Linked DNA regions of Homo sapiens: region 1 is linked to region 2. The links come from fine-mapping of genetic effects on gene expression. A gene starts in region 2. The other region holds a variant in brackets. All regions are shown on one strand. Distances are between the middles of the regions. Region 1 overlaps LRRIQ3 (leucine rich repeats and IQ motif containing 3). Region 2 holds the start of FPGT (fucose-1-phosphate guanylyltransferase).

What was found. PIP is the estimated chance that this variant, and not a neighbour inherited with it, causes the effect.
Region 1: its variant is fine-mapped to the expression of FPGT in lung (GTEx, PIP 0.98).

Annotation. Positions count from the first base shown.
Region 1 is chr1:74,011,212-74,028,290 of GRCh38, forward strand. It overlaps LRRIQ3 (leucine rich repeats and IQ motif containing 3), which reads right to left. Exons shown (of 8, transcript NM_001105659.2): 8 at 14,804-15,758. The coding sequence ends at 15,602. Among named protein-coding and RNA genes, the nearest start is that of LRRIQ3, 180 kb to the right of the region's middle. The variant T/C (reference allele first, on the strand shown) is at 9,672.
Region 2 is chr1:74,190,986-74,208,064 of GRCh38, forward strand. FPGT (fucose-1-phosphate guanylyltransferase) reads left to right here and starts at 7,257. Exons shown (of 4, transcript NM_003838.5): 1 at 7,257-7,375; 2 at 8,679-8,846; 3 at 10,333-10,425; 4 at 13,406-17,079. The coding sequence starts at 7,294. The coding sequence ends at 14,847. It overlaps LRRIQ3 (leucine rich repeats and IQ motif containing 3), which reads right to left and starts at 7,191. Exons shown (of 8, transcript NM_001105659.2): 1 at 7,011-7,191. FPGT-TNNI3K (FPGT-TNNI3K readthrough) reads left to right here and starts at 7,257. Exons shown (of 27, transcript NM_001112808.3): 1 at 7,257-7,375; 2 at 8,679-8,846; 3 at 10,333-10,425. The coding sequence starts at 7,294. RefSeq lists a silencer at 7,095-7,194.

The DNA of each region.
Region 1 (17,079 bases), 180 kb before region 2:
ATGCGACTGAAGGCAGACGAAGAAAATAAATTTTAAAGGGCTTTCTCTCAGATGCTAAGTTGCTTGGGTTTTTAACTTGAAAGCAATGGGGGAGGCATTAAGGGTTTATTTTTTAGCTAAGGAGTGTAGGTACAGATTTATATTTTAGACAGATGATGAATCTGAGGTGTGGGGCCAGAAAAGCTGGAAGGAGAAGGGTTAATGGGCTGCATTGCAGTACATCCAGGTGAAAGATGATGAAGGTCTGAACTCGTGATGGAGAGAAGTACCAAAGAAATTGATTTTAAATATTTTAACTGGAAATGGGTTATAGATTGTTTAGATAAACAGGATAGTGGAACAGTGGGATCTAGGATGATGCCTTGGTATCTGCCTTGGATGATGGGACCTTAGAGGAAAGCAGTCCCAGTGGGGTGAAGGAGAAGGTGAGAGTACATTTGGTTATAGCTTAAGGTGCCTACCAACCTTTCAAATGGAGACACCCAGAAGATATTTCTCCCTGAGTTGGTTGAGATCTACCACATATTCTCTTTAACTGTAATTTACTATTTTTGTGCATGTTTTTAATCTAATCAAGTTTTTTTTCTTTTTTAATTCCTTGAAAGAAGAAGGAGAATTGCCTCATAGTCCTTTGCATTCATCACAGGCCAAGCACAATCCATTGCTTATAGTGGTTGCTCAGTAAGGATTTGTTTCTCAATAAATGCATTGTTTAATTGCAATAGAATGACTCTGATACATACTAAGTTAAGTTGGATACAGTTTACTTGAGAGGGCTTTACAAAGGATTTCTGTGTGAAGGGTAGAAGGACAGTAGCATGGTGCATTTATGAAAATCTTTCTGCCATTAGTTTTTTAATGTGTACCCTCAATACTCAGTATCTTAGAAACTATTACTTACATACATTTTGAGAACAAAGATTATGTCTTATTTTACCCTCATTTTATCCCAAGCTACTTTCATGGCACATAGTAGGTATTCAACAAATATGTGTGGAATAAATGCATGAACCAGAATCACTAGTTCACAGTTTATGTACCAAATTACACTGTAAAATTCAATATTTAATAATAGCTATATGAAAATAATAGATGGAATTTATGTAATTTTTACTGTCCAATAATCACAAAGTATCTTTGTTTGTTATCTTTATGATATATTTGTAGTTGGAGTCTGTCCCTTTATATCTGAGCAGCTCTGCCTCCATCTGCTAGTGATGCCAGATGGAGGAGAGGCAGGAAGACCAAGAGATTAATGAAGCAACTCATCAAGTTGTTTGAAAGGCAAAAAATATATAAGAAAATTAAATCTGTTGAGATGCCCTTTAAAGAGCAATGGTTGCATGTTGTATATGTTTAAAGTTTCTAGAGACAAAAAAGAAAAAAAACCTAAGAAAATTTCTGGGAGATAAAATTGTTAATGACTTGTAAGACATCCATGCCGGAAAAACACAGGGTATCATCTTCTCCTTAGTGTCTGTGTTAACACCCTGGTGGCAAAGGAAATTAACTCTTTCTGACCACAAGGGTGAAATTAACTGCACTGGGGAGTACAAAGTCCATTAGTGGAAATGGTTCCCCATGGCTCTTATGTGGTGATAGGCTCACAGACCATGAAATAAGGGTGCAAGCTAGTCTTTCCAAAAGAAAGCCAGTACTTAAGAACAAAGATATTGCCTGTAATTTATAGGAGGAAAAGAAAGGCAAAATCAGGTGAACTCTGCTGGACTTGCAATTCTTTGGAAAGCAGTAGTGAAAATGGAGGGGAAAAAACTCATGCACGACAGTTTAGGACAGTGCCAGATGTCAGCTAGTGAGAGATAAAAGATGAAAAGTTCCTCAAACAGTGTTGTAATGCAATAAGCTACATTATACAACTCACCATTATGAAGTGTATTCTAGTAGAAATAAATTCATTTTAAATGTTGATAACATACATTTGCATGACAAAGAAATAGTGTTGATAACATTACAAATGAAAAAATACACAATGAGAAAAATGTTATTTATTTATTTATTTTAACTTTTATTTTAAGTTCAGGGGTACATGTGCAAGTTTATTACATAGGTAAACTCATGTCATGGGGGTTTGTTGTACAGATTATTTCATCACTCAGGTATTACGCCTAGGACCCATTAGTCATTTTTCCTGATCCTCTCCCTACTTCCACCCTTCACCCTCCAATAGGTTCCAGTGACTGTAGTTCCCTTCCTTGTGTCCATGAGTTCTCATCTTTTAGCTTCCACTTATTAGTGAGAACATGCAGTATTTGGTTTTCTGTTCCTACATTAGTTTGCTAAGAATAATGGCTTTCAATATATTTTAAAAGCAGCTAAAGCAGTGAATATATCTGTATACCACCCAAACAAATATTCTTAATAAAATAATTATGGAAACTTACTCATTAGAATTATATAATTCCCTTTTCTAAAGAAAACTTTAGGTGGTTGCAGCCAAGAAAATGTAAATACTAATTTTTTAGTTTCTGTTTGCTTAGCTTTCCCTCTCAGCTCCTGGTGAGTCAAGTGCCATGTAGATCTGTAGTTCACCTCAATTTCTCCCTTGGCCTAACATTATTTTTTTTTTACATTTAACTTCTCAAGGTTAATTCTTTTGTTTGTTTAAAAATAACAGTCCTAGTAAGAATCCTGAGTTCAAATTATTTGCTAAATTTGGTTCACTTGACAGAATATAATACTTTTGAAATTTTAGTTAGTTAGAGCCACAAGCAGGCCAGACCTGAAAAGAGATATGGGGAAAAAAGGCAGAATTATATTATAGTACTGGGGCTTTCTTGCTGGAACTTTAGGAACACATGCCTTCTTTTTTCATCTTCCAAGAATTACAGTCATCATGAATATTCTCTATTCACTCATTAATCTTTCACTTATTCAACAAACATTCTTAAGTTCTCATATATGCCAATCACTATTCAAATTTCTAAATGTAGATGGCACTGATCTTAAATTTACACATATATATGTACACACACGTACACACACACACATATATATATACATACATACATGAAGTCCTCACTTAACACTGTCAATAGATTCTTAGAAACTGTGACTTTAAGGAAAACAGTGTAATAAAATCAATTTTACCAAAGGTTAATTGATACTAGAACAGAGTTATGGAGAGGATTTCTGGCAAGATGGCCGAATAGGAACACCTCCGGTCTGCAGCTCCCAGCAAGATCGACACAGAAGCTGGGTGACTTCTGCATTTCCAGCTGAGGTACCTGGTTCATCTCATTGGGACTGGTTTGACAGTGAGTGCAGTCCATGGAGGGCAAGCCAAAGCAGGGCAGGGCATTGCCTCACCCAGGAAGCACAAGGGGTTGGGGGATTTCCCTTTCTTAGCCAAGGGAAGCCGTGAGAGACTATACCATGGGTCACACGCCCACAGAGCCCAGCAAGCTAAGATCCACTGGCTTGAAATTCTCGCTGCTAGCACAGCAGTCTGAGATCGACCTGAAAAATCTGGAGCTTGGCAGGGGGAGGGGCGTCCGCCATTGCTGAGGCTTGAGTAGGCAGTATTATGCTCACAGTGTAAACAAAGCCACAGGGAAATTCGAACTGGGCAGAGCCCACCACAGCTCAGCAAGGCTGACTGCCTCTCTAGATTCCACCTCTGAGGGCAGGGCATCTCTGAACAAAAGGCAGCAGCCCCAGTCTCCCTGGGACAGAGCCACCTTGGAGAAGGGGCAACTGTGGGCACAGCTTCAGCAGACTTAAATGTCCTTGCCTGACAGTTCTGAAGAGAGCAGTGGTTCTCCCAGCACAGTGTTCGAGCTCTGATAATGGACAGACTGCCTCCTTAAGTGGATCCCTGACCCCCATGTAGCCTGACTGGGAGATACCTCCCAGTAGGGGCTGACAGACACCTCATACAGGAGAGCTCTGGCTGGCACCTGATGGGTGTCCCTCTGGGACTAAGCTTCCAGAGGAAGGATCAGGCAGCAATATTTGCTGTTCTGTAGCCTCTGCTGGTGATACCCAGGCAAACAGGGTCTGGAGTGACCGTCCAGCAAACTCCATCAGACCTGCAGCTGAGGGTCCTGACTGTTAGAAGGAAAACTAACAAACAGAAAGGAATAGCATCAACATCAACAAAAAGGATGTGAACACCAAGACCCCATCTGTAGGTCGCCAACATCAAAAACCAAAGGTAGATAAAACCACAAAGATGGGGAGAAACCAGTGCAGAAAGGCTGAAAAATTCCAAAACCAGAACGCCTCTTCTCCTCCAAAGGATCACAACTCCTCACCAGCAAGGGAACAAAACTGGATGGAGAATTAGTTTGGCGAATTGACAGAAGTAGGCTTCAGGAGGTGGGTAATAAGAAACTCCTCCGAGGTAAAGGAGCATGTTCTAACCCAACGCAAGGAAGCTAAGAACCTTGAAAAAAGTTAGATGAATTGCTAACTAGAATAACAAGTGTAGAGATGAACATAAATGACCTGATGGAGCTGAAAAACACAGCACGAGAACTTAGTGAAGCATACACAAGATTCAATAGCTGAATCAATCATGCAGAAGAAAGGATATCAGTGATTGAAGATCAACTTAATGAAATAAAGCGAAAAGACAAGAGAAAAAAGAGTGAAAAGAAATGAACAAAGACTCCAAGAAATATGGGACTATGTGAAAAGACCAAATCTACGTTTGACTGGTGTACCTGAAAGTGATGGGGAGAATGGAACCAAGTTGGAAAACACTCTTCAGGATATCATCCAGGAGAACTTCCCCAACCTAGCAAGGCAGGCCAACATTCAAATTCAGGAAATACAGAGAACACCACAAAGATATTCCTTGAGAAGAGCAACCCCAAGACACATAACCATCAGATTCACCAAGGTTGAAATGAAAGAAAAAACGTTAAGGGCAGCCAGAGAGAAAAGTCGGGTTACCCACAAAAGGAAGCCTATCAGACTAACAGTGGATCTCTCAGCAGAAACCCTACAAGCCAGAAGAGAGTGGGAGCCAATATTCAAAGTTCTTAAAGAAAAGAATTTTCAACCCAGAATTTCATAACCAGTCAAACTAAGCTTCATAAGTGAAGGAGAAATAAAAGCCTTTATAGACAAGCAAATGCTGAAAGATTTTGTCACCACCAGGCCTGTCTTACAAGAGCTCCTGAAGGAAGCACTAAACATGGAAAGGAACAACTGGTACCAGCCACTGCAAAAACATGCCAAATTGTAAAGACCATCAACATTGTGAAGAAACTAAATCAACTAATGGGCGAAAGAACCAGCTAGCATCATAATGACAGGATCAAATGCACACATAACAATATTAACCTCAATGTAAATGGGCTAAATGCTCCAATTAAAAGACACAGACTCACAAATTGGATAAACAGTCAAGACCCATCAATGTGCTGTATTCAACAGATTCATCTCACATGCAAAGATACACATAGGCTCAAAATAAAGGGAGGGAGAAATATTTACCAAACAAATGGAAAGCAAAAAAAAAAAAAAAAAAAAGCAGGGGTTGCAATCCTAGTCTCTGATAAAACAGACTTTAAACCAACAATGATCAGAAGAGACAGAGAAGGGTATTACATAATGGTATAGGAATCAATGCAACAAGAAGAGCTAACTATCCTAAATATATATGGACCCAATACAGAAGCACCCAGATTCATAAAGCAAGTTCTTAGAGACCTACAAAGAGACTTAGACTCCCACACAATAATAGTTAAAGCCACTGCACTCCAGCCTGGGCAACAGAGTGAAACTCCATCTCAAAAATAAATAAATAAATAAATAAATAAATAATAAAATAAATAATATATATTTTTAAAAAGAGTTAAGTTCTTATGGCATATCTCTGGTCACAAAAGCATCACCAAACTTCTAAATAAAGACAAAAGACTTCTAATATTAAATATTGAAATAACAGTGAGTTATACATACATATAAGAAAGACTAACTAAAACAAGTAAGATCATTATTTACTCAACTTTGGTGAATAAGTGAATGACGGTGGTCATCGTGGTGGTGGGTTAAATCAAGATGTTTGCAAAGTGAAAACTTTAAAGAGTACTTCCTATCACCACACGGTTCAAAAACAATGACAAATATGGCAAGTTCACTGAGTGCTTTTGTACAGAGTCATTTATTGTTATACATTTGTATGATTATTGTATACTTTACAAATTTTTTTGACAATAATTTGTATTCATTCAGTCATTATCCAACCCATTTATTCTAGTGGGTAGCTGGAGCCTATCCTGGGAACCCACCCTGGACAAGCTGCTATCCCATCAAAGGGCATGCACACACACATCCACACTCACTCAAACTGAGACCATAAAGACAGGCAATTCACCTAATGTGCACAGTTTTGGGATGTGATAGGACACCAAAATGGAGAAAATCCACAAATCCATGGGCAGAACATGCAAACACCCCACAGACAGTGGCCCCAGCCAGGGATCAATTTTTTTTTCTCATCAATTTTGTAAGGAAATTCTGTTGAATGAAGCGATATTATTTGAGGACCTGTTCTTTGTGTGTGTGTGTGTGTGTGTGTGTGTGTGTGTGCATTTGAAATGAAGTTCCCTTGTGATGGCTGGTCAAAGATAATGCCCCCGTAAATATTCTCTGTATTAGAGATGAACTTGGCTGTCCTTCCTCCCTAAAACATTTATCTGCTCCCCAGCATTTCCAAAAGCTCTTGTATTAGGTGAAGCCATGTGTAAAGTTCTGGCCAAGGACTCTGAGCAGACTTGACATGTCATTTTGGAGCCAAACCATTTAAGGGTTGGGCCCCCTCCTTTCTACCATGTTCTTTCTTTGCCATAGCAGCATCACAGGCCATCTGTAAGACACTGACACTATTAAACAGTGATGTCTTCCTTAGTCACACTGGACATGGAGTATCAGTGAGAAATGAACTAAACTAGGCTAAGTCACTGAGAGTAAAGGGTCTGTTACCCTAGTCTGACAGTGTCAGGCTGTTAAACATGATGGAATTATCCTGAAATGATAGAGGAAGTGTTGATATGAAGAGTAGGGATTATAATATATCAAATCATACATTTCTTGACTTCTAGGAACTGTGTGTATCAATTGAAAAGTATTGCATATTATACAGATATAACCATTTAGTTTCTGCCTGGTTGGTAATGACCTCTATTCATGAGAAGATAAAAGAAGGTTCTACACCTCTGACAATCCACTTTCTCATGAATTATTTCCTTCATCTTGAAGAGACTTTTAGATTCTCAGACTATACAGGCAGATTTACAGTGAAGATAATGAGGCTTAACCTTCAGTACCCCTCATATTATGGTCCCCTTCCAAGGCCCTATACTTAACTTGATAATTTTGTATTATTTTCCCAAAAGAGCATCCTCTCAAGTTGAATAAGCTTCAGGCCCCATAAAAACCTAGATCTAGCTCTAACTGATCTTTTACATTACTACATTTACCTGGCACTCGGCTTTATTTTTGTGTTTTACCAGTTATTTATCTAGTTCTCCAGAAGTAAACAATAAAAAAAACCTTCTCCCCTTGTGGCCTGGGCACTGACTATGCATATTTCCCTCTTTAGGTTACTGGGCCAAAAAGATGTTTCCTTTGCCTGGGTGTTTAAGCCACTGATGTTGTGAGCTTCAGTCATCTTCAATAGCTCTCATTTGCATATGGAGACTGGCACCTACATATTCACATATACATGGAAACACATATACACACCCACAGACTTATGAACACACATGGAAAACACATTTTGTGATGTGTTTATTTCATATAATAAGATCACCTTGTAATAGAGACCTTTACCACATATCAATATCAGGTGAACAAGGCCACTGTCTAAAGATTTCTACTGCAGAGGTCTGTCATTTTCACAAGGTCCAGCTCATCTCAGAGGCCACATAGTGTACTCTTAGGCAAATTAGTTAAACCATATTAACCTATGCTGATGAGTTTTTGGAGTTAGCCTATCAAATGAACAAACAAAAACAAAAATGAAAAAACAACATCTGTATGATTACCAGGTGACTTTCTTCTTCTCAAAAGTACTTTATCGTGTAAATCATGAGAGCAGCTGCCATTTTTATATGGATCCATTCTGGCTAGAAGGATGGTAGGAGGAGGCAAAAGGGGTGGCCAGGAAAAGAGTGGTTAACAATTACACATGCAGGTAGCGTGTTAGAAACTCTCTTTCTAAAGCAATGATAAAGTACTCCATTCTTTATTTAACTCTCATAATCAGTCTTCTTCTTTATCTGAAGAACCACATTTTTAGAAGTAAAATTCTAAAAAAAGTCAGCTTTCAACCTTGTATTTTTTTTCTCTAAATGTAGGAAAGAAGGGAAAATAGGAGGTTTTTGAAATTACTATAAATAGGGCTTTTAACCTAAAAGTTGATTCCTCAGCAGAATAGTTTAGATAGTTAATGCAAATAATGAAGCAGATTAGAGTTTTTTTCTTGAAATATTAGTGGCACTGAATGCTCGTATCTCAATTTTGTCAATCTATAGGATATATTTATCAATCTTTGACCTCTACATAGGACAGAAAATTTTAGTATAAACAATTAAAATATTTAAAGGGTATTATTTGTTCTTGATGTCATTCCAAGGGCTAAACAGTACACACAGGAAATTAAAAGATATCCCTCTTTCTTGTTTTATTAAGCACTGGGGATAAACAAATTAAGATACAGGGAATCCACAGTCAAATGTGTGGAACAGCATATAATCAATTTGTTGTAATGCCATGTAAATAAGTAATATAATAATACAATAATATAATAAAGGCATACACAGAAGCACTGGATAAAAGACTTTCAGAGCATGCCCCTTGACTCTAGAAGATCAATCAGAAATTCTCTAAGCAGACAAAAGCGTAAGGGCACTTGAGGTAGAGGAGATAGAGAATTGAATAATCTGATAGGTGGAACATGGGGCTTGAGACTTCTGATGGCAGGAGAAGCTGGAAAGGTAGGAACTGTCAAGGCCATTAAGATTTTCTTCTTTCCTGCTACTTGGAAAGGGTTTTTTTGTTTTTTTTTTTTTAACTTTATCCTATTGCAGTTGGGATATGACCAAAGAGTTGATTTCCACTTCAGGATATGCAGAATAGATTTGAAGAAAGAAATAGCAAGAACTAAACATTGTCATTGGAGATTCAGAGGAGAGTTTTAAGAGCAATGAGATAAGAGGATGCAAAAGAGTTGGTTATATATGACATGTGGTGGAGAATTATGTTAAGGATGACCTGCAGGATAGGTTCTGAAAGGGAAGATCTATGATTTTAGTCTGTAGCATGTTGAGTTTGAATGCCATGTGGGTCATCCAAGTGAACATGTTCAGTGGATGATTAGAAATATGCCTGGAACTCAAGAGAGATGCTGTTAGGACCTGTTAGAACATGGGCAATGTGATTATGGGCAATGTCAAAAAACATGGCCTTGCATGCCGTGAACCAGGAAACATACAAATTGAGAAGAAAGCTATATATGGGAGAATGATGCAGTAGTCTGTTCAGGATGCTATAAATACCATAGACTTGGTGGCATACGAATAACAGAAATTTATTTCTCATATCCCTAGAGGCTTGGGAGTCCAATATTAAGACACTGGCAGACTCACTGTCTATGAGGACCTGCTTCCTGGTTCATAGATGGCTGTCTTCTTGCTATG[T/C]CTTCACATGGCAGAAGGGGTGAGGGAATGCTCTGGGGCCTCTTTTATGAGCATTAATCCCATTCATTAGGGCTCTGCCCTTATGACCTAATCATCTCCTAAAGGCCCCACCTTTAAATATGATCACTTGAGGGATTAGGTTTCAACATATAACTTTTAGGGAGACACAAACATTCAGTTTACGAACGTGATAGCACCAAAATTTAAGGAAAAAATAACAGCAGGAAAAAAAGTCAGAAGGGTAAGAAAGGATATAAAGAGCAGCATGTGGTGTCATGGAAATTGAGATGGAAAAAGATGTGTCAAAGAGGGCAAAATTAATAGTAGTGAATGCTTCTGAAAGTTCCAGCAAAATACAGGCTAAAAGATGTTGATTTGACTTAGCAAGAAGGAGGTTATTGGTGATTTTGTTGATGTTTTCATTACAGGGTCAAAAGATGAAATGGAAGTCTGATTTTATAGAATTGATATGTAAAACACAAGACAGGATGTTTATGTATTTTGGTAAGATTTGAATGGCCTGAGAAAGTGTATATTTAGCAGAGAAGGAATCAATAAATGTGACAAGTGGGGCAGATAGGAAACTACAGAAAAGAGCAAATAGTTGTTTAATCATTTCAATATACATATTTACAATAAAAGTAAAAATATATATAAAGAGATTCTTTGTTCTTTTTGAATGTAGGCTTTAAAAATCTTCAACTTTGTTACACACTAAATCATAGCCAAGGAAGATATCTGTGAATGATTATTAAGGACCATTGCAATGTGTAGGACACTGCTAGAGAAGGCTGTCAATAGAAAGATGGTAACACATTTTCTGACTGTAAAGACTTTATAACCTAAGTGAGGCAATTAAACAAATAGGCAAATGACCGGAACAAAAGATAGGGTAAGATGAGTGCCATAGGGCTGTACAGGCAAAGTATCATGCCTGAACTTCAATTTATTGTGCCTTCTGATTAGCAGCCTCTGAAGCATTCCCTTCCAGTTTTCCCCAAAGCGGAAAATTCCCAGCATGGAAAATAATGAATAATAACAGCAAACACTTATCTAACACTTACTATGGCCCAGGCACTGTTCTGGGTATATCACATTCACTTATGTTTAAAACTTTCATGATAGATAAATATTATATCCATTTGACAGATTATTAAGACAAAAAGCCTACTTTTTGCGCTTTAAAAAGATCTCTTACAGCCGGGTGCGGTGGCGCATGTCTGTAATCCCAGCACTTTGGGAGGCCGATGTGGGTGGATCACGAGGTCAGGAGTTTGAGACCAGCCTGGCCAATATAGTGAAACCCCGTCTCTACTAAAAATACCAGAAATTAGCTGGGCATAGTGGTGCATGCCTGCAGTCCCAGCTACTTGGGACGGAGGAGAATAGCTTGAATCCGGGAGACAGAAGTTGGAGGTTGCAGTGAACCAAGGCTGTACCATTGCACTCCAGCCTCGGTAACAGAGTGAGACTCTGTCTCAAAAAAAAAAAAAAAAAAAAAAAAAAAAAAAAAAAAAAAATCTCTTACATTTGTAAAGTGAGATTTACTGAGACAAAATAAACGTATTGGAATTCTTCTTATTCTGGTGTACGACTGAGACCATTGCTAGTAAGAACAACAAAGATACTCACTGGAAGGATTGTTGGTAACTCATGAATCTAAATGAAGAAATCTGGGACTAAGCTCAGAAAATGGGTAGATACCAAAGCAGGCTAGGTAGCAGAAGCTCAGTAGACAATGCCACATATATGGCCATCTTTGACATTGCTATCACTGGAAATTTTCGCTGCCACTCTTGGACTCAACACCACTGGGAATGACTTCTTGTCTTTTGTCCTGGTATCACTTTAGAAGTGCTAACATGAACATCAAACGACTGGCTCTATATCCCAGGAGTTGAAGTGAAAACTTTTTGATCCCTCTAAATTTGTGTTAAGACATGGTTAATAACTCAAAACAGGCCAAAGGGTATTTCCCCAGAAAAAGAACATTTAGATGATTTATAGGCAAAAGTAAACAAAAGAATCTGACAAATGTACATCTACATTTTTCTTATGATACCAACACCTCTCACTACTCCCATAAGGTGGCTCAATCCTAATATAAGTATTCTTTATACAACTACAAAAGCATACATTTAAACATATACATTTTCTCTATCCACTTCTCTAAGGGAAATAACTCAAAGTCTCATTAGTTACTACATTCAGCTTGGAGCCCAGGATCACTGTGCAATGGCCATTATGCTCCAGTTCTATTATGATACTTCATTAATATTATATGGAATAGAGGAAATGGAGAGGAAGAAAAAATATAAAGTATACAAATGCATTCGTGATAAAACATGAAGGCAATATGAGTAGAGGTTGTGATCTTTATTTCTGTATATATTTATGAAGCCATAGTTAAAATGCATTACTTTCCACCTCCACCATCTCTTCAAGGTACTTTTGCCTTCAGCCAACAATTCACTATAACAGGCTTTACCTGGTAGGCTTACCCAAATATTCTTTCCTGAGAAATACAAGCCCTTGCTTGTAAAGTGTTGAGGCAGCGTTCCATTAACTTTAGCTCTAGACATGGAAGTATATGGAGATGTTCCAAGGGATAGCTGGAGCTCTATCTGTACTCCTTCATAGTTTTATTGTGTGAAAACTCTGTTTCCCATTGATAATCAGACACTTACTGGGAAAAGTAAGCCTAGAAATTCCCTGGTTAAAGTATGGGCAGGAACTTAGCAAATCCAGTGGCACAAAACAAAGTCATGTTAGAACACAGAAAGAATCTGGAAGAACTTCTGGTAATACAGCCATAGGAAACTAGTAGTTTCTCTCCTGGAATGTTGAGCTGCAATGGCAGTGAATAATTTATAAATTACCTCTGTCTTAGCAATATTTCAAGATCCAGAATCATGGGCAAGAATAAATAATCAATCAGGTGCCCTCACTGTAGCTGAGTGTAGGGGGAGGGAATGTCTGATACCTTTAGCCCCATTGTGAATGACAAGCAAGTTTCCTCCTTAAAAACCCACAAAGCCTACTAATACTTTGCCTCATAAAACCGAGAAGCCTCACTTGCCTAAAATAAGATAGGGAGATAGGTTACTCCCTTTCCACTGCTGCATCCTAGTTCAAACCCTGTATCTGTACCAGTATAAAAATGGGATCTCTTCCCCAGTATGAATGTGTTTGCTGCTACTTATGCTAGCTAGAGTCTGCTGAATCACTCTGTATAGACTCAACCATTATGATATATTAATTACAATAAAACTGTTGGTCAGAAAATGTATATGTTTGAATGTATAGGGTGGTGCTCGTATGTCTCATTTGCTTTATGTGCGAAAGTTATCATAGGATTATGGATGAAGACAAAGACAGGAAGAGCTCAGCCAACAATTGTTTAAGTGTCAGTGACCCAGAAAGTGACAGGGTAGGGTGAAGGAGTTGGGTGAGAAGCAAGAAAAAGAGATCAGTAAACAGAACAACATGCATACATACATATACCCCTAAACCTAGAAAAACAACCCAAAATATTAACAGTGGTTATCTGTGGGTCATAGGCTATTACTTTCATTTTATAATTTAAATACATTTTCTACTTTTCAAAAATAATGCTGCTATTATAATTGAAATACAATATTTTAAATTGTTATAGTGACTCAGAAGAAAGTGTAAAATACATCTAATTGGAAGGATTAGACAAATTTCTATGGATCACAGTGTTGGGGTATTAGATTTCATTAAAAATTATGCAGGTGACATTTGTGATATGGAGCGTATCGGCCAGGAGTGAAAAATAACTGGAGTCAAGGAAGAAGTCATATAATCATGGTTTTCAAGAACCATTAATGTTCTAATTTGAATGGGATGGGACGTGCTATTATAGGTCAAGCATCCCTAATCTGAAAATCTGAAATCAAAATGTTCCGAAGTCCAAAACTTTTTGATACCTGACATGACACAAGTGGGAAATTCCACACCTGACCTCATGTGATGGGTCACAGTAAAAATGTGGTCAAAACTTTGTTTCATGCACCAAATTATTGAAAATGTTTTATAAAATTACATTCAAGCTATGTGTACAAATGTATATAAGACACAAATGAATTTCATGTTTAAATTTTGGTCCTATCCATAATATACCTCATTATGTATATGCAAATATTCCAGAATTTAAAAAAAAATCTGAAATCTGAAACAATTCTGGTCCCAAGCAACTTGGATAAGGGATGCTCAATCTGTAGAAGATAAATACCAGAAACAAATCAAGAAATATGGTAGCGCTTCTAAAGAGAGTATTTGAGGTAGAAATAATATATTGTTCTTTAGACTTTCTTTTATTATGTATGTGTCTGTACATATGTGTGATCTGTGTCTGTGTGGGTGTGTGAAATTTAAAAAAAATCATTCTGCTTAAGTCTGTAATTTGCACTGAAGGTAAGAGTTACTCTATGAAAGAGTGCAACAGAATTCTAAGAAATCTTTTAAAAAGTGCTGGCTGAAAGGGTAGGAATAGGAAAACAAATTAACCAACAATATACATATTGCTTTCTAGATTTAACTAAAAAAATTTTTTTAGACATAAGTGATCTGAATAATGAAGTTAAAGGCAGTATAGGACACTAACACCCAGAACCCATAACATTTAAAACTTTACATGGGCTATAGTATGAGTAGACCTCGGTCTCCATATTTCTGTCTTCAATATTGGTTTTCTTACTACCCCACAAAGCCAGTACGATACGTTGGGTTTTTGTGATAGTAGCACTCCTATTTTGGTAACAAGTTCTCTACTGATTAAATCACTCATAGATGCTGGCCTAATATAGTTGATGTGGTTGCAAAGCCCTTAATATAACTGAATTTTCTTTTGGATGATGTAAAGTACAAAACAGGTATTCTCTATCATACTCCAAACAGGGATTTAGGAGGCCAGGTTCTTTCTATCTAGGGAATTTTTTAAGCAATAATGTTTTAAAGGCTTACATATATAACCAGTGAGTATTAAAGAGAAATTTTGAATAGCATTAGCTACATCGTATTTAGTGAACAATGTCATAATTATAGTGAGACACTCATCCTTCTAGATATATGAAATCACTATTGAAAATGGATGCAAATTTTACAAAGGATTTTTCTGTCTTTTTTAACAGTTTATTTTTCAAATTTTCTACCATTGGTATGTATTAAACAGACTTATGGTTAATATATACCATTTCTGTATATTTTATGATTCCAATATATAATTATATGGGTTGTCTCTTGCTTCTCTCCTCTGTCTTTTCCCTGTCTTCACATGTATACCAAACAGGGCAAACCCATCAAAAGTAAATATACAAAAATCTTACAGTCTTCAAGGAAGGTGATAAGAATGTTTAATTTACTTTTCATAGTTCATATTTTCTGAATTTTTATAACAGCATATATCACTGACAAAATATTGAAACCATACTTTAAAAAATAAATTCAGAAATTGTTTTAACAAAATAAGCAGGAAATATATAAAAGCAGGTAATAAAAGTCATCAACGTACACAGTGTCTTAATAAAAGTCAGCAGTTGGAGTAGAAATTACTATTCTAAGGTTTCCAGAAAAACCTAAATTAGCTTATGAATTGCTATATTTAGAAAGAATATGAAACAGAATATCAGCAATGTCATTGCAACATTGTCTGCAATACATTAAATCAGTTTAATTGTTCCTTAGGCATCTGATCTAAGAAATTTTTCAGAGGTGCTAAGTCAACTTTAAGTTAAATTATGACCAATAAGAGAAACATTTTAACTAATCTTTATATTTTTAGAAGACTTATATATAAATCCATCTTGTGATGTAGAGTATTTCTTGCTTTAGAGTATTATTTCAAATTCCTTCAACTAAAAATAATGACTATAATTTAAGATGATCATAGGATGTGATCTGGCATTGATTCATTTTATCAGTCCATTGGGAACTTTAAAGTCTAAATTTGTTTTCACAATTGCTACTTTTGTTTTAGCATCTTGAAGTCTTTCACAGGCTTTTTCAAAGGCAATCATATCCATAACAAATTTTTCTTCACAATGTCTTTTATATATTTCTTGAGATCTAAGAGGAGAAAGAAAGGTAATAGAATGAGATACTTTTAAATACTGAAACCATGGCAATCTATTAGACTATTAATGATAATAATTAGATGTCTTCGAAATAGGCATATACAAGTGAGAAAGACACAACTCCATTTATATAACTTGGTTATATCATTAAACAATACTCAGACAAGTATTTATGAGATATCTATAAGCTATAATTAAAAATTCTCACAAACTATGGCTTAGATTTCCAAAGAGGCATCTAAACTACCCTATGTCATCACCTAAAATACATCTCCTTAAGCCTCACTAAACCCAAGCTACTTCTTCGACTCTGTTATGGTCTGAATGCATTCCACCATATTCATATGTCAAAGTCCTAACTCCCAGTGTCTTTGAATGTGACTATTTGGAGATAAGGCCTTTAAGAAGTAGTTAAGGCTAAATGACATTATATGGGTAGGTCCTAATCCAATATAATTTGTGTACTTATAAGAAGAGGAAGCAAGAGCAGAGATGTGAGTGTACAGAAGAAAGGCCATGGGAGGACACAAGGCAAAGGTGGCCATCTGCAAGCCAAGGAGAGAGGGCTCAATAGAAACCACACCTGCTGACACTTTGTTCTTGGACTTCCAACCTCCAGAACTGGGAGAAAATAAATTACTGTTTAAGCCACCCAGCCTGTGATATTTTGTTATGGCAGTCCTAGTAGACTAATACCCTGCCAAACCGGGGAAATGTCACAGGTCTTAGGAGATTTCATTCATTCATCCTTATTTATTCAACAATTATGTATTGTGATGCATGGCACTAACCTTAGATGCTGGAGACATAAATATGACATGATGTAACTACATGAAGCTTATCAAAAGTTAAGAGAAATAAATGTATATAAATATACAAATGAGATATTATGGTTCATCGTGAAAACATTATGTAACAAGTCAGAGTGAGGAAAAACTTGAGTAAAAACTTGGTAAATATAAACTAAAGAGCAAGGAGGGGAAGATAAAAAAAAGTTTAAAGTTAAAATAACCTTTGAACTGAATCTTGAAAGATGTGTATTTTCCAGTCAGAAAGTGGAAGAGAATTTTGTTCAAACTATTTTTATATCACGAACATGGTCAAAACAAAGGTAGAGAGGGTAGCACAGCTTGGAATGCTCCAAGAACTGGCATCAATCTAATTGTCTGGGTCTTACAGTCTGGGAAGGAGAACAAGGCAGCAGGCAAGGCTGGAGAAACAAATTTAGGCCAGATCATAAAATACTTTATTTATGTGTAGGTATACTCAGAAATCTGAAGTTGAGGAGAAAAAGAGAGGGTGAAGTCTAAAAA
Region 2 (17,079 bases):
GTCATGATGCTGAGGCCTCCCCAGCCACATGGAACTGTGAGTCCACTAAACCTCTTTTTCTTTATAAATTACCCAGTGTTGAGTGTGTCTTTATCAGCAGCATGAAAACAGACTAATACAGTAAGCTCTACAAAATTAATTGAATGCCTAGTTCCATTAACAATTCGAGATAAAATATATGCTTCAAAAACTATATCAAGGACACTGTATGGTGCAAAATTATTCTTTAAAAGTGAAAAAGAAATAAATTCTGTTAGATAAATATTGAAGTAATTTGTTGTTGGTAGGCCTGCCTTGTAAGAAATGTTAAAAGAAGTTCTGAGAGAAGAGAAATGATATAGGTCAGATACTCATATCTATGTTAAGAAAGAGTGTTGGGAAAGGAACAAGTGAGGATAAAATAAAAATCTCTTATTTTTCTTATTCTTAGTTGAATAATTTGTCCAAAATAATAATAGCAACTAGTTTTATTTTAATTCATCCAACAACAACAGAATATACATTCTTTTCAAGCTCACATGGAGCATTCACTCACCAAGACAGACCACATTCTGGGCCATAAAACATGCCTTATCAAATTCAAAAGAACAGAAGCCATGCAACATCTTCTCTCAGACCACAGTGGAATTAAACTAGATATCAATAACAGGCAAACAGCTGGAAAATTCCAAAATACTTGGGAGATTTATAAACACACTTCTAAGTAACACATAGGTCAATAAAAATTTAAAGATATTTTGAACTAATAAAAATAAAATGTAAAATTTAGCAAAATTTGTGGGATATAGTACAAGCAGTGCTTAAAAGGAAATTCATAGCACTGAATACATATATTAGAAAAGAGCAAAGATCTAAAATGAATCATATAAGCTGCCATTTCTAGAACTTGAAAAAGAGCAGCAAATTTAATCCAAAGTAAATATGAGAAAATTTTTCTCATATTTTTCAAGAAAATTGTAATTCTTAATTATATTCTCAAATATTCTGGGAGGAGGGGCATATTTTATCATCATCTCATTCCAGAAGAGTCCATAAAGATCTATAGTCTCTATAAAAAATAAATACTCTACTCAGATTATATGTAGGTTCTTCTACAATGTAAAGCATCTAACCATTAACCTGTAGTTCACATGTTTAGTGAAGAGTGGGGAGGTCTTTCCATATACTCACTGTGGTTACTTTTACCATGCAATAATAAATCTCACTCCAAAATGTATCCTTTCCTTATCTGTTAGGACATTCAGAGTTAATTTTTTTCCAACTTTTATTTTAGAATCAGGGAGTACATGTGCAGGTTTGTTACAAAAGTATATTGCATAATGCTGCAATTTGGAGTATGAATGAATTTGTCACCCAAGAAGTAAGCATAGCACCCAACAGGTAGTTTCTTTTCAGCCCTTACCTGTCATCCTCTCTCCCAATTCTTGTATTCCTCTCAAATACCAAATCTTATCCGAAATATGTGTCTAAAAACATATTTTTCAGTTCCTCTTTACTGATTTTTGTTTCATATGTATTCAATATTTTAAAATCTTCTCAACTGGTTTCTTTTTAGTTGATGTGATATGAACACTAAAATAATTTAGTCTTATAAGCAGTCTTCCCCATACACTATATTAATTTACATTCATTTTCTCTATTAATATTCACCTCTGCCAACAATATGTATTTGCCAGTATATAAACAACCTTAATATTTTTAAAAATTACAAAACAGAACATAATAATACTGGTTATTGCTATTAAAAGGAAAGATTAACATGAGTAATAAATTACAGAAAAAACTAGTATTCTATATTCAGAATATAACGTATGTGTCAGTTATTTATATTATTCAGCTACATATTCTGTCGAACTTTCCAATCATTATGGAAAAGTGGGGATTTTTCATATTTTGTTTTAACTACCACATGCAGCATTTCAATTTTGTTTCTCATTATTTATTTATGTTGTACATCTGAAAACTGGAATAACTCAAATGACCAGGCCCCAGAGCATGTCCCCTGAATCATATCATTGCAGCTATGGGCCCATATGATTCTACTGCCTACCAAGGGAAGCTAAAAACCACTACAATTGATATATCCTCCTCTACCAAGTTGGAAGCCCTTTACCACTTGTTGCAAATTTAAAATATGCACATAGAGGAGGAATCTAGTCACTTTCATTCATTTTAGACTTTGATAATTTTATAACTATTTTGTGAAATGTATATACACATTTGTAAATTATCAAGTTCAAATAATAATATAATGTTCAAAGGCAAATTAAGTATAGCAACACGTTACAGAACGTATCAAGTCTCCAACCACAGTTTCAAAGAAATTCTGCAGTTAAAAATAAATCAGTACCATTATCAGCAAACCTTTCCTTAGTTTGTATCAACTAAAGTACCAATTTAAAAATTATCCTACATTTTAATTGCACTATATAAACCATGTCTATAAAATAAAATGCACATCAGTTATATCTCATCTTCACACCCAACTTTGATGGCAAACACATTAAGTGTAACTATACAAGGTTATAACTCATGAATATTTAAATTAAATATTAAGAAGTAAAAACTATTTATTTTGTATATTTATTTCTTTTCCAAATGTGATACATAATAAATATTGGGAAAAAAGTTTTCAAAGAAAGTCTTTGCTGAGTGTACTAATTACCTTTAGACTTAACACTTATTCACTGAAGCTTTCAGATACTTGGAAGACAGATCATCATTATTTTAAGTAATATATTAAAATATTAGATTTGATGGTCTACATGAAAGTAATTTATTTTATAAGCATGAACTATAATATTAGATGGAAATCTGAATACTAGACTCCAGAATTATCACAACAGCTGTTATCTGCATATAAAATCAAATCATAAAAAAAGAATAAAAAGTCTTAGTTTTTAGAAAATCTAATTGTAAGGATTCTAATCAGTAACATTTTATACATATTGTGATTACAAACTATTTTTAGTTTAGAATGTCTGCAACATATTAAGTGCATCTCTATTAACAAAATAAAGAAATTATATTTTTTAAATACTTTTTATTTGGATAACAGATTTGTTAAGTAACGACTGTTTTAATAAAGAATTGCCATGGGCCGGTGCAGTGACTCATGCCTGCATAATCCCAGAACTTTGAGAGGCCAAGGCAAGAGAATGCTTGAGTCCAGGAGTGAGCTATGATCTGCCATTGCACTCCAGCATGGGTGAAAGGTTGTCTCTAAAAATAAAAATCCTGTCTCTAAAAATATAAAAGAATTGCCATAATTTTATATCACAGAAAAAATATATTTTAAAAGTTAAGAAGGGGAGAGTCTAGTAGAACAGTCAGACTAGTACATGTGTCCTGGAAAATGAACACAGAATATAGTGCATTTATAACTTAATATAAATAACCTTGGTAGCACAAAACATTATATTTTCATGGCATATTCTATATGTTTTCAAATGACATGAAAAGTCATTCAGAACAAGGAATCAGAATTCATTTGTAATTATAACTTTTTTTCTTTAAATATATTGGCTTTTTGAATTTTAGAAGGTTATATACTTCTGTTCAGAAAAAAAGCTTTTGTGAGACCTCATTTTTCAATTTTTATTTTTATTCCAACTTGGAGACTGCAAAAGCATAAGCCTGAAAAAACTAAAAGGTGGTGAGCCAGAAGATGGATATTAAACAGCCAAAATTAATAAAAACATTCACAGAAAATAATCTGCACAGAAATCACAACCTCTTAATAAAGAAATTAGCACGACAAATATTTCTTCTAGCCCAAAACATTCCTTGGTTAGCTTTCATAGAACAGATTTTGGATCTCCTAAAATTAAGCCATTAATACCTTTTTCTTAAGTGTCATAAATATTGTATTACATTAATTAAAATTTAATTCTTGACTCTACTAATTTATATTCTTCAACCACTTGCCCTCTCCCTATCCCTTTCCCCTCCCCGAAACCTCATCCTGGTATTTGGACAAAGTAGATTATGATTACACTACTGGGGAACTCCATTTGGAAAAAAAATCTACAAAAATACTAAGGGAGGAAGTATAATAAAAGTTCAGGGGTGGGAGAATGTTTCTCTGCACTACAGAAAGTTGAGGGGTGTGAGGGTTCCTCCAACAGGGCATAGTGAGAAAAAAAATATTTAAGAAATAAATTGAGAACAGGCTAGCTGAGTAAATAAATCGAAATAAAACAAACTGCAAAAAGACAATTTTTGCTTTCGTTGCATGTCAGGAAGGGTAACAGGAGGAAACAGTGGTTAAACAGAGCCATGAAGCACAAGGACTGGAAACAAGTACAGCCCTAGCTTGGCCTGACCACAGCATGCACTACGAGCTCCACAGTATATAATCCAGGACCCTATTCATTTGGCTTCAACTTCCTCATATAAAGAAGGGGGGAAAATTAAAACATTCTTCTCTATAATTTCCACACAACAGTCATAGTTATATGCCTGTAGTAATAAAAAAACAGTGTAACTGGCATTAACTGTAAATGGGTTGGAAGACATTTTAATGGGGGGATGAAAATGTTCTAAACCTGTACCTCAATAAAGTTGCTTTAAAAAATCTATCTCATTCTTCCTTATGGCAGCTCTTCAGATACTCTCTACTCTCCTCCTGGAAATAAAAAGCCCAAATGCCTCCACAGAATATAATTTTTCAATTTATTATAGTCTAGTATGTTCAACATCTTTTTAAAAATGTGGAATCCAAAACTAAACAGATTATTTCCTGTGTGTTTGATTTGTGCAGAATTAATGGGCTTACAGCTTGGCTGGATTGATATATTTTACTCTGGTAAAATGACATTCTGATAAATACCTGGAAAAACTCTGTGGCGAATTCTCTAGTATAATAATACTCTGGTAGCTTAAGATGTTAAACAGTCATATCACACTGTTTTATTATAGTGAATATGAACTTAAATAAAATCCCTAAACTTTTTTTGCCTCCAACAATCAACTGCCACGGAAATTTACTCCTACTCATATATATAGTATTTTTTAATTTTTTTTTTACTAAAAATTAATATTAATGAAAATTTGAGAAAAGAAAGAAAACAGAAGCCATAGCTGATAATATGGTATATTTATTTCCAGCAAATTTTGATTGCATGATATAGTCATATTGAGAAAAAATAATATCCAATTTCTATGGCCATCCTTCCCAGATCCAAGAAATACTCTAATATTCTGTATGATACCGTCCTAGATCCAATAAATACTCTATTTAATATTCTGTATGATAGAATCTAACACATCACTCTGTTTGTCTCCTCACAATTGTTACCACTGGATTTTTTATTTGGTTACTTCTTCCTTCTTTATTTCACCTTATTAGAATATACAGACCCCAAACATATAGGCTCTGCTGACCTTCACTCCCTTGGGACCTCACTTAGTTCCACAGTTAAAATTAATTCTATCTTCTTGCTGACAATTCCCAAAATTGTATCTCTAGCCCAGACCTCTCTCCTGAATTCTAGACTCGTATGTATAATGCATACAGACACATACACACACAAACTTCCATTACATATTCACTGCATACACATGTCTCTTTATTCCACATGTCCAAAATCAAATTCTGGACCCTATTACCCCAAAAACCTTCCTCAGTCGGAAACTTACCCATCTTAATTGATGGCCAATCCATCCCAAGGCAGTCATTTTGACTCCTCTTTTTCTCTTACAGTCCACACCCATTAATTCCATCAGCACATTTTATTGTTTTTGTCTTAAAAATATATCCAGAATCTGACCAACTTCTCACCATTCCCACTGCTACCATCCTGGTCAAGCCTTCACCAGCTCTCACCTGCAATATTGCAGTAACCTCCAAAGAAGTCTCCCTGCTTCTATCATTGCCTCATCCCCCATTATAATCTATTCTCCTATCTCCGAGTGATCTCTTTAAACATAAGCCAAGTCACTTCAAAACCCTGCAATGGCTTTGTTTCCCTCAAGAGTAAAAACCAAAATTCTTCCTATGGCCCTTTGTTCTCTCTCTGACCTTCTCTCGCTACTTTCTCCTTTGGTTACTTTCACTCAAGTCTCTGTATTTTCTAAATGTTCTTCAATAAGATACTGTTTTTTTAATTAATGAAGTTTTAAATGTAAAACTATGAAAGAGTAATCTAATCTGCCATTTTATCCAAATGTTTCCACTATTAGAACACGATTGTATAACAAGTCTGAGAAGAAAAACTAAGTAAATTTATGACAAGAGTTTATGGTGCCCTGAATGTCTACGTACCTAATGAAGACGTTGATACAGAGAAATCGTCTCAAAAAATCAAACGGTATGGTGAAATACCACAAGTTCTGGGTTTGGGATTGAAATATATTTCTTAAATCTTTTATTACTTACTAATTGTGATACCTTGACTAACTCACTATTCTCTGATTCAGTTTTCTTCTGTGTAAAGATGAAGTGGTCTGTAAAACCAAGAAACCTCGTGTTCTATAACAGGAACACCTTTATATAGCTACCCAAAAAAACACCTAAAAAGGCTGACTTATTCCTAAGAGTGTTATTGAACATTCTAGATTAATCTGCATATACAAAAGAATGCCAGAGAAGAAACCAAAATACCAAAAATATTTGGAGCCTGGTTGCGGACTGAATTTTATACAACTTTCAAAGACACTATTTGAGAGGCTGTCGTGTGTAGCCTACTAAGAAAAAACAGAGGGGTGGGGTGGCTCACTCTCTAGGAACCACAAACTTAAGGTTCCTAGAAAGAGCAGAGATTTTAAATATTCAGACTGTGTATGTATCATGACCCAGGGTTGGGGGCAGATGGCCCGGGGTGGCGGGGGAAAGGAGAGATGGCGGAGATCTTCTATCAGGCTATCCTGGGGAACTGCTCCAGGCTGAAACAAACCACCAGTTAGGACGAACCGCCTTTGATGTGAAAGCTGGGAAGCTAGAATGTAGTTTCGCCTTATCCTTAGCGGGTCGGTTCTAACAATTTTGTCACCCAAACTGAACCACTCACCGGGTCAACTGGGCTGCAAGCCCTTATGAGTTGGAGACAAGTGGCCCAGCCCCAACACAGTCAGACAAATCGCTGGGCGGCCATCTGCTCCTGAGACCGTTGCTAGAGAAACAAGACAACATCCAAGTTCTCCACATCATGGTTTTCCGGGCGCCAGCCAAGGCGCTCCGGGGGCGTGGTTACGTGGGCGACGCACGGAGGGGGCGGGTCAGAAACAACCGGGCGGAGGCGCACCCCAGGGCGCATGCGTGCTGTGCGGCGCGGTCTCAGGGAAGGTGGGGCTATGGCAGCTGCTAGGGACCCTCCGGAAGTATCGCTGCGAGAAGCCACCCAGCGAAAATTGCGGAGGTTTTCCGAGCTAAGAGGTACCAGAGAAGGCACCGGAGTTCTCCTGGGCAATGCAGAGGGAGGGTGCTTTTACGTGCCAGGAGGTTTGCTGGACTGTCACTTCCCGTTTACTTCTCATCTGTAGGCCTATGACGCTCCCCAGGAGTAGCTAGCTAATAATCCTTTTGAGTTTTTTATTCTTTTCACTGTCCCTGCTTGACATGCTTGTTGCTTACTTTATTCTTAGTAGTATAGATATTAAAAATGAGGGCGGAGGAAGAAGAAGAAAATCTTACTAGTGAAGTTATGCATTGATTAGCTCATTAATAAAAGTTGCTTTAAATAAATCTAAAAGATACGAAGCACAGTATTTTGAACTTTATGAGTAGATGCCAGCCCCCTATCTACTTCACGCTTTACATTACGTTCATCTACTTCTGTAATGTAACCGTTTGTTGAGGGAGTAACAGAACATGGAGGAATTATGGATTAAAAATTAAAAGGAAGAAATTTGTTATCAAAAAATTGGCTATGACACTTAATCCCTGTACACCTGTCTAATAAAAGTGATTATATTTGTGTTGCAGTGACTGCTTAAAAAATACTGGGACTAATTCTTGGATAACAGTAAAACTTTCAGGACTATTAGATTCTAGCTGACAAGTTCTGTTTGTTAACTAATTAAAATGCTAAATCATTTTGTTTATCAATAAAGAGATTCCAACTGTCTACTAAAAGTGCACACTGTCTTTTAAAGATGTCATCAGAGAGTTGGGACCTTCTGTTATCCAGAATTTTATGTTATATTCTAACAGCCTATGTAAGTTTGCATGGTTCATCTTAAAGTAATAGAAAATAAAGTACCCACATTTATAAACAGCAACATTGAGGGAAGGGATCTTTGGGTTGTGTCTTTCTTAGTCACCTAACACCAAGTGTCCGTGATACATAAGAATTGATTTGCAAAGCTGGAGATTTGTTTATGTTTATCTCCTCTTCTTATTGAAGAATTGAGGCAATAGTCTTTGGCAAGTTAAAAGTCGCTCTCTTAATCAAGAAACATTATGTCATTCAGAATTTATAATTAAATTGGATTGCAAACCATAAAAGGAGGGAGTGATCTAAAAGAAAAAAAAGGAACTTGTGAACAGTCTTCATTATAACTATTTTGAATCGTATTAATGCACCACTAATTATTCCCTAACTTTCAAAAGCCAAAGATACATTTTGGAAGATGATAATGGATATTACCTTCTTTATCATCTTTCTCAATAGGCAAACCTGTGGCAACTAGAAAATTCTGATAATTTTTGTTTTCATTTCCTTGCTTTTTCCAAATAGGCAAACTTGTAGCACGTGGAGAATTCTGGGACATAGTTGCAATAACAGCGGCTGATGAAAAACAGGAACTTGCTTACAACCAACAGCTGTCAGAAAAGCTGAAAAGAAAGGAGTTACCCCTTGGAGTTCAATATCACGTTTTTGTGGATCCTGCTGGAGCCAAAATTGGTACGCGCTTTATGGTCAGTTTTATAATATAGGTCCTAAGCAGAATAATCATTGAAGAAAAGGTTTCTGTGACTTACAGTGTATAAGCTGCATATCTCTACCCACAGCTTTACAAACTTTAAAATTTGAACATAAATTGACTTTTTTTAGAAAGATAAAAGGAATAGCAACTGTTCTTACCCATTATGACTTACCTTGAAAAACTTCCAGAATGTTACTTAAAAGAAAATTTTATTAGTTTTAATGAAATTCACACTATTCAGATAGGAATACTCCTTTGGACCTTATCAGTAGAACCCTTGAGGTCCTCTCCACTCCAGAGTTCCTCCAGCAATTTACATGAAGAAAGCAATTAGTGGGAAAAAATACTCTTGACCTCTTAGGGACATAATGCAGAATGCAAAAGAACACTGTCACATGGCTTAAATATAATACATATATTTGAAAACCCTAGTTTAGGTCAACTTTGCCCTTTGACCGTCCATTGCAAATAGAAATAAATGCTGTTTTTCTGAATGCTCTTTTCTATGTGATACTTAAAGTTGAAGCCCCCTGATACCAGAGATAAGATATCTGTATATGACATTAATATGACATTAGCATTATTCTAATTAGCCAACATTATTTTAATCCTTACAACTATGAGGTCAGTACTGTTATTATTTCTTTTTTTTTTTTTTTTTTTTTTTTTGAGAAGGAGTCTTGCTCTGTTGCCCAGGCTGGAGTGCAGTGGTGCGATCTTAGCTCACTCCAAGCTCCGCCTCCCAGGTTCAGGCCATTCTCCTGCCTCAGCCTCCCGAGTAGCTGGGACTACAGGTGACTGCCACCAGCCTGGCTAATTTTGTTTTTGTATTTTTTAGTAGAGACGGGGTTTCACCATGTTAGCCAGGACGGTCTGTATCTCCTGACCTCGTGATCCACCTGCCTCGGCCTCCCAAAGTGCTGGGATTACAGGCGTGATATTATTTCCATAGATGAGAATCTGAGGTACTCAAGAGTTAAGTAACTGGCCCAAGATAACTAGTGTGGTAGTTATATTTAAGATTTTTTTTTGGGAATCCAAGTTCTAAAAATCTTTTTTCGAAAGGAACTCTAACTTGTGTTTTTGATTGTGTCATTTGGGAGAATTATTTAAATGGGCTTTGTGATTTGTAACTCTGTATGAATGTTTATATTTATCAGTCTTCTAGTGTTACAGATTGTGTAATTGATTCTTCTTTCTTATAATTACTATTTTGGGGAGAATATTACCTCATCATTTATTACTGAGGGTTGTTGTCTGGGTTTCATTGCTAATTTATTGATTGGTTGTTTGCTATGAGATGTTTTTAATTTTGTTCTATTGCCAATACCTTTGATGTCCATCTATTTACTTATTCCTGAAAGGCAAATCCTTAAGGTTATATAACACCTAAATTTACTGTCATGACAAAGTTTTAGTAGGTTTCTATTAAATAAATTGTGCTTTTTTAACTTTGTTTTTAAGGAAATGGAGGATCAACACTTTGTGCCCTTCAATGTTTGGAAAAGCTATATGGAGATAAATGGAATTCTTTTACCATCTTATTAATTCACTCTGGTAATGTTATACTTTACTAATTTACATTTTCTTTTTAGTCTTCCACCTTTAATACTTTAGAGACTTTTTTCTTTCTTGCAAACACTTTCCTTCTTTTTTAAAAGAATCTTTGAAGTTATTCTGCTTTGAAAACAAATATTTTATGATTTTCATGACTTTTTTTAGGTTGTAAGTAGTATAGTGATTTTCACAAATTTTACTCGTAAAATTGTAGATCACGTATATCGTCAGTCTTTTATGAATATTGTTTTGTTTTGGGTATGTATATAGAAAATTATTTTCCTAAGACAACTCATTCAAATATGAATAGTTCTCGGGAATACTTTAATGGGGATTTTTCTTTTAATTTTAATTTGTATTTTAAGTTCCAGGGTCCATGTGCAGGTTTGTTACATAGGTAAACGTGTGCCATGGTTGGTTGCTGCACCTGTCAACCCATCACCTAGGTATTAAGCCAGCATGCATTAGCTATTTTTCCTAACACTCTTTCTCCCTTAATGGGGATTCTTGCTTTGAGGGAAGGGTGGTTTAACACTGTCATTACTAGACTTTTGCCAGTACTTTTTATCTTGCATTTTTGTGTGATTATTGATAGCCAGAGGCCACAATGCTTAAAAATAAAAGGAAAATGTGACAAGATACAGAGTGGACAAGTAAATATATAAAAGAGAAATCACACACACAAAATAAGACATTTTAAAACAGAAAAGTAGGAAGGACATGGTCTCAGAATGAAGAATAGCTTTTTAAATTGAATACATTTAGTTGTGTGAAAATTTTGGTTACATGAAAACCTTTGTTGTTTTTCTATGTATGTTAAGGGGCTAATGAAAACTGTCATGAACTGACACCAGTCCAGGGACAGGTATTTTAGAATTATTCATCTACATGGCTTCCAAGGCACTTTTTCATTCTTATGATTTACATACAAAACAATGATTCTTTGTAAAGATGATGTCAAAGTAAAGCATCCAAGTTCTGGTTTGAAGCCTAAAAATGTGTAAAACAATCTAATTTACAATTTTATTTAAGAAAATAATTATTATCAGTTTAGTAAAAATTAAATTAGATACCAGGAAATGCATAGTTAGATAATTTTTTTATTTTTATTTTTTGGAAATAGATAATTCTTAGTGCTAAACTTGACTATTGGCTGCTCTTTGAAAAAAGAAAAAAACAGAAACTTATTAGCTCTCTTTTGTTGAACAATGTACTGTGTGCTGCCAAGTGCTTTACAGGTATTATTGATCTTCAGTAATAAATTAACCTTAGCTTACTATAACATTTTTACTTTATAAACTTCTTAATTTTTTTGACTCTCTTGTAATAACATTCAGCTTAAAACACAAACACTGTACAGCTGTACAAAAATATTTTCTTTATATTGTTAGGGTTTATTTTGTTGTTTTTATTTTTACTTTTTAAATATTTTGGTTAGAAATGAAGACACAAACATATTAGCTTAGGCCTACACTGGGTCAGGATCATCAGTATCACTACCTCTATAGTCCTACTAAAGTTCAGGAGCTGTCATCTCCTATGATAACAATGCTGCCTTCTGAAAGACCTCCTGAAGGACCTGCCTGAGGCCATTTTATGCTTAACTTTTTTTTGTATGTATCATATGAATTTATTCTAAAATAACAATGAAAAGTATAGTATAGTAAATACATAAACCAGTAAAATAGTCATTTATTACCAATTATTATATACTATATACATAATTGTATGTTCTGTAGTTTAGTAAACTGGCAGCACAGCAGGTTTGTTTATACCAGCATCACCACTTGAGTGGTGCATCGTGCTAGGACTTTACAATGGCTCCAACATCACTAGGTGATAGGAATTTTTCAGTTCCATTATGATCTTATGGGACAACCTATGTATATGCTGTCCATAATTGAGCGAAATGTTGTAAAGAAGCAAGTATTTTAGCATTAGTATATTAGTTTTCTATAACTTTTATTTTCTGTGAAGTAGATTTTTTTTTTTTTTTGAGATGGAGTCTGGCTCTGTCGCCCAGGCTGGAGTGCAGTGGCACGATCTCCGCTCACTGCTGCAAGCTTCGCCTCCCGGGTTCACGCCATTTTCCTGCCTCAGCCTCCAGAGTAGCTGGGACCACAGGCGCCCGCCACCACGCCCAGCTAATTTTTTGTATTTTTAGTAGAGATGGGGTTTCACCGTGTTAGCCAGGATGGTCTGGATCTCCTGACCTCGTGATCTGCCTGCCTCGGCCTCCCAAAGTGTTGGTATTACAGGCTTGAGCCACCGCGCCTGGCCTTCTGTGAAGTAGATTCTTAATTAGAAGTCTAAACATGGTTGAAATTTGTTGTTTAAAATGTAGATACAGGCTGGGTGTGGTGGCTCACGCCTGTAATCCCAGCACTTTGGGAGGCCGAGTTGGGTGAATCACCTGAGGTCAGGAGTTTGAGACCAGCCTGGCCAACATGGTGAAACTTCGTCTCTACTAAAAATACAAAAATTAGCCAGGCGTGGTGGCAGGTGCCTGTAATCCCAGCTACTCGGGAGGCTGAGGCAGGAGAATCGCTTGAACCTGGGACACGGAGGTTGTGGTGAGCCAAGATCGCACGTCACTGCACTCCAGCCTGGGTGACAGTAAGACTTCATCTCAAAAAAAAAAAAACAAATGTAGATGCAACATCATGTTTTGGGCCGTGGTCCTTCTTATTTGTTATACATGTAATTCAAAACATTTCACAGATTCTACAGTATATTTAAATTTTTTCCTGACCTACAGTTTTTAAAATTGTCTTATATCAAATGGCAACAAGAAAATTTCTCTTCGAATTTTTAATTTGGATTTCATTATTCTTTCCTGATTTGCAGTAACAAGTGGCATATATTAAATATCGTTAAATATATTTTGATTTGTAACTTATGGGTTATAAAACCCTGGGGTTTTGAAAATTTTATAAATAATACTGCATTTTTAAATGGTTATTTCGTTTTAATTTTATAGGTGGCTACAGTCAACGACTTCCAAATGCAAGTGCTCTGGGAAAAATTTTCACTGCTTTACCTCTTGGTAACCCCATTTATCAGATGCTAGAATTAAAACTAGCCATGTACATTGATTTCCCCTTAAATATGAATCCTGGAATTCTGGTTACCTGTGCAGATGATATTGAACTTTATAGTATTGGAGAATTTGAGTTTATTAGGTTTGACAAACCTGGCTTTACTGCTTTAGCTCATCCTTCTAGTTTGACGATAGGTACCACACATGGAGTATTTGTCTTAGATCCTTTTGATGATTTAAAACATAGAGACCTTGAATACAGGTCTTGCCATCGTTTCCTTCATAAGCCCAGCATAGAAAAGATGTATCAGTTTAATGCTGTGTGTAGACCTGGAAATTTTTGTCAACAGGACTTTGCTGGGGGTGACATTGCCGATCTTAAATTAGACTCTGACTATGTCTACACAGATAGCCTATTTTATATGGATCATAAATCAGCAAAAATGTTACTTGCTTTTTATGAAAAAATAGGCACACTGAGCTGTGAAATAGATGCCTATGGTGACTTTCTGCAGGCTTTGGGACCTGGAGCAACTGTGGAGTACACCAGAAACACATCAAATGTCATTAAAGAAGAGTCAGAGTTGGTAGAAATGAGGCAGAGAATATTTCATCTTCTTAAAGGAACATCACTAAATGTTGTTGTTCTTAATAACTCCAAATTTTATCACATTGGAACAACCGAAGAATATTTGTTTTACTTTACCTCAGATAACAGTTTAAAGTCAGAGCTCGGCTTACAGTCCATAACTTTTAGTATCTTTCCAGATATACCAGAATGCTCTGGCAAAACATCCTGTATCATTCAAAGCATACTGGATTCAAGATGTTCTGTGGCACCTGGCTCAGTTGTGGAGTATTCCAGATTGGGGCCTGATGTTTCAGTTGGGGAAAACTGCATTATTAGTGGTTCTTACATCCTAACAAAAGCTGCCCTCCCCGCACATTCTTTTGTATGTTCCTTAAGCTTAAAGATGAATAGATGCTTAAAGTATGCAACTATGGCATTTGGAGTGCAAGACAACTTGAAAAAGAGTGTGAAAACATTGTCAGATATAAAGTTACTTCAATTCTTTGGAGTCTGTTTCCTGTCATGCTTAGATGTTTGGAATCTTAAAGTTACAGAGGAACTGTTCTCTGGTAACAAGACATGTCTGAGTTTGTGGACTGCACGCATTTTCCCAGTTTGTTCTTCTTTGAGTGACTCAGTTATAACATCCCTAAAGATGTTAAATGCTGTTAAGAACAAGTCAGCATTCAGCCTGAATAGCTATAAGTTGCTGTCCATTGAAGAAATGCTTATCTACAAAGATGTAGAAGATATGATAACTTACAGGGAACAAATTTTTCTAGAAATCAGTTTAAAAAGCAGTTTGATGTAGAGATATTTTAAATATTGTACACTTTGCCTTTTTGAGTAACATTCCAGAGATAGGTATTTTTTGTAGGCTGTTTCACTGAACTCAGTTAATGAAAACTGTATTAACATAATTGTTGTAGCATAATATTAATAGTGCAAAAGTACATATAAGTCATTTTGATGAAAAATATTCCAAGACTAAGTTGAGAAAAGAGATACTATTTTGGATGTGTATCAGTATTTTTGTTTTTAATAATGATTGATTTGTGGAGCATTGTTTTTTCACATAATTAGTTTTAAAGGTAATTTTCTAAGCATACCTTTGGAATTTTTCCATCTTTTTTGAGGCTTTTGGTCCAGTGAAGTTCTAAGTATTCACTGGCACTTCTCTCCTCAACTGTAATTCTATTTTTAATAATAAAAATGGCATACTGTAGGGTCTTCAGAGTAGTGTAGGAATACTGTAGAAATACTTTTTCAGAAACGAATCCATAGCTGACAAATTCACTCAGTGCCCAATATATTGTGATTATTTTCGTTGATAAAGAACTAGATACAAAGACCTCTGAAATTGATGATAAAATTTGTATCTCATTAATTTTATCAAAATGAAACTAAAAGTACATATGTATTATACACTTGAACATGTGTTTGTATATCTTTAAAATTTTCCTTTATGTTCCATTCCATAGGAAAACACACATATGCACACAAAACTCAGTTATCTGTGGGGAAAGTGGTAGTAATAATTGAGATTCATCAATAATCATATAATTTCACTATAGACATTACTTGCATTATCTCCTATCAGTCCTTCTAACAAAACTTCAATTACCAGATGAACTGACTTTAGTTTTCATCTTATTTTTTGTCCACATGCTGGTGATGCTGAGAAACAATAATTGGCCCAAATGCAGACATCAAGAAGCAGGCAGGAAAATGGAAAAACTGAGATAATACACAGGTGATAAACAGTTTCGAGAAAATAAAAATTGGCTAGAATCTCAAGTTATGTGTTTCTATATTGGTATAAGCATATAAGTGAAAAGTCTTATAAGTGTAATAGAGAAAAGATTTGTCAGTGTGTTTTTTTAAATGAAATAACTAGTCTGTGCTACTTTATGTCAATATAAAAATTGGTAAACTAGAAGTAACTTGTCCACAACCCTCAGTTATGATACTTATGTGCGTGTTTTTTTTTCCAAAGTTTTTCCCAAGGAGAAGATACAAATATATGGTAGCTATTGTTTAAAAATGATTGATTTACTTGCAGATTTTTCAGAGGATGTTATGTCTTTGTCATTCATTAAATGTTCAAAATTGTAGTTTTACCAAATCTGAAGTGCCATCAGTTATAAGAATCACCATTATTTTATGTTCCATTAAGAAAAACACAATAAAACATGACACTGCTTTTTTTGTTACTTGAAATTTTCATATTTATTGGAGAGCTCTTTTAGATGTTTTTAAATACAGATTTTTATTTAACCCTCTTGCATATACATATAAAATAACAAAAAAATAAAATATTGAGATATCATCAAGAAATTTCTACAGCTTCACATTCAAACTCTTCAGCACTTTCAGAGCTATTGATATGCATATGTCCACCTAGTACCATCTTCTCTGCTTTCAGAATTATTGGTAAGGCTGCATTTCCTGAGTGCTCTACCACACTTATGTCTGGATTTTTTTTACCCAGCTACAGACCCACACTCCTGCAAGATTTGATACCCTTCTATTTGGCAAAACTCAGTTTCACTTTTCTTTCAGTTTAATCACAGGTCCTTAGAAGATCGGACCTGTGATTCTATTCAAAGTCAGAAAGAGATTTCTCACAAATTGACGTCATATTAACATGTCAATATGAAAATTAATTGTTTGGTAAACCAGAAGTGACCTGTCTGAAGCCCTCAATTGTGGTATTTGTGTGTTTGTTTTTTCTTTTTCAAGATTCTTTTTAAAGAAAATATATGGTAGCTGTTGTTTAACATTTATCTACTTACAGAGCGTTCAGAGGATGTTATATGTTTATTAAGTGCTCAATACTGTATTTTAACCTAATCTGAATTTTAATCATAATCCTGTACAATGCATGGATTCTGGTTGCTTTGAAATGGTTCTGTTCAAAGGACTTATCAATGTCTCTTGCTTTGAGATGTATTGCTTGGTGTGTAGTAGCACAAACGTACCACCAATAATGTACCTAATTCAACTGAAGTGACAGTCATATACGCAGATATGACCAAGTTCA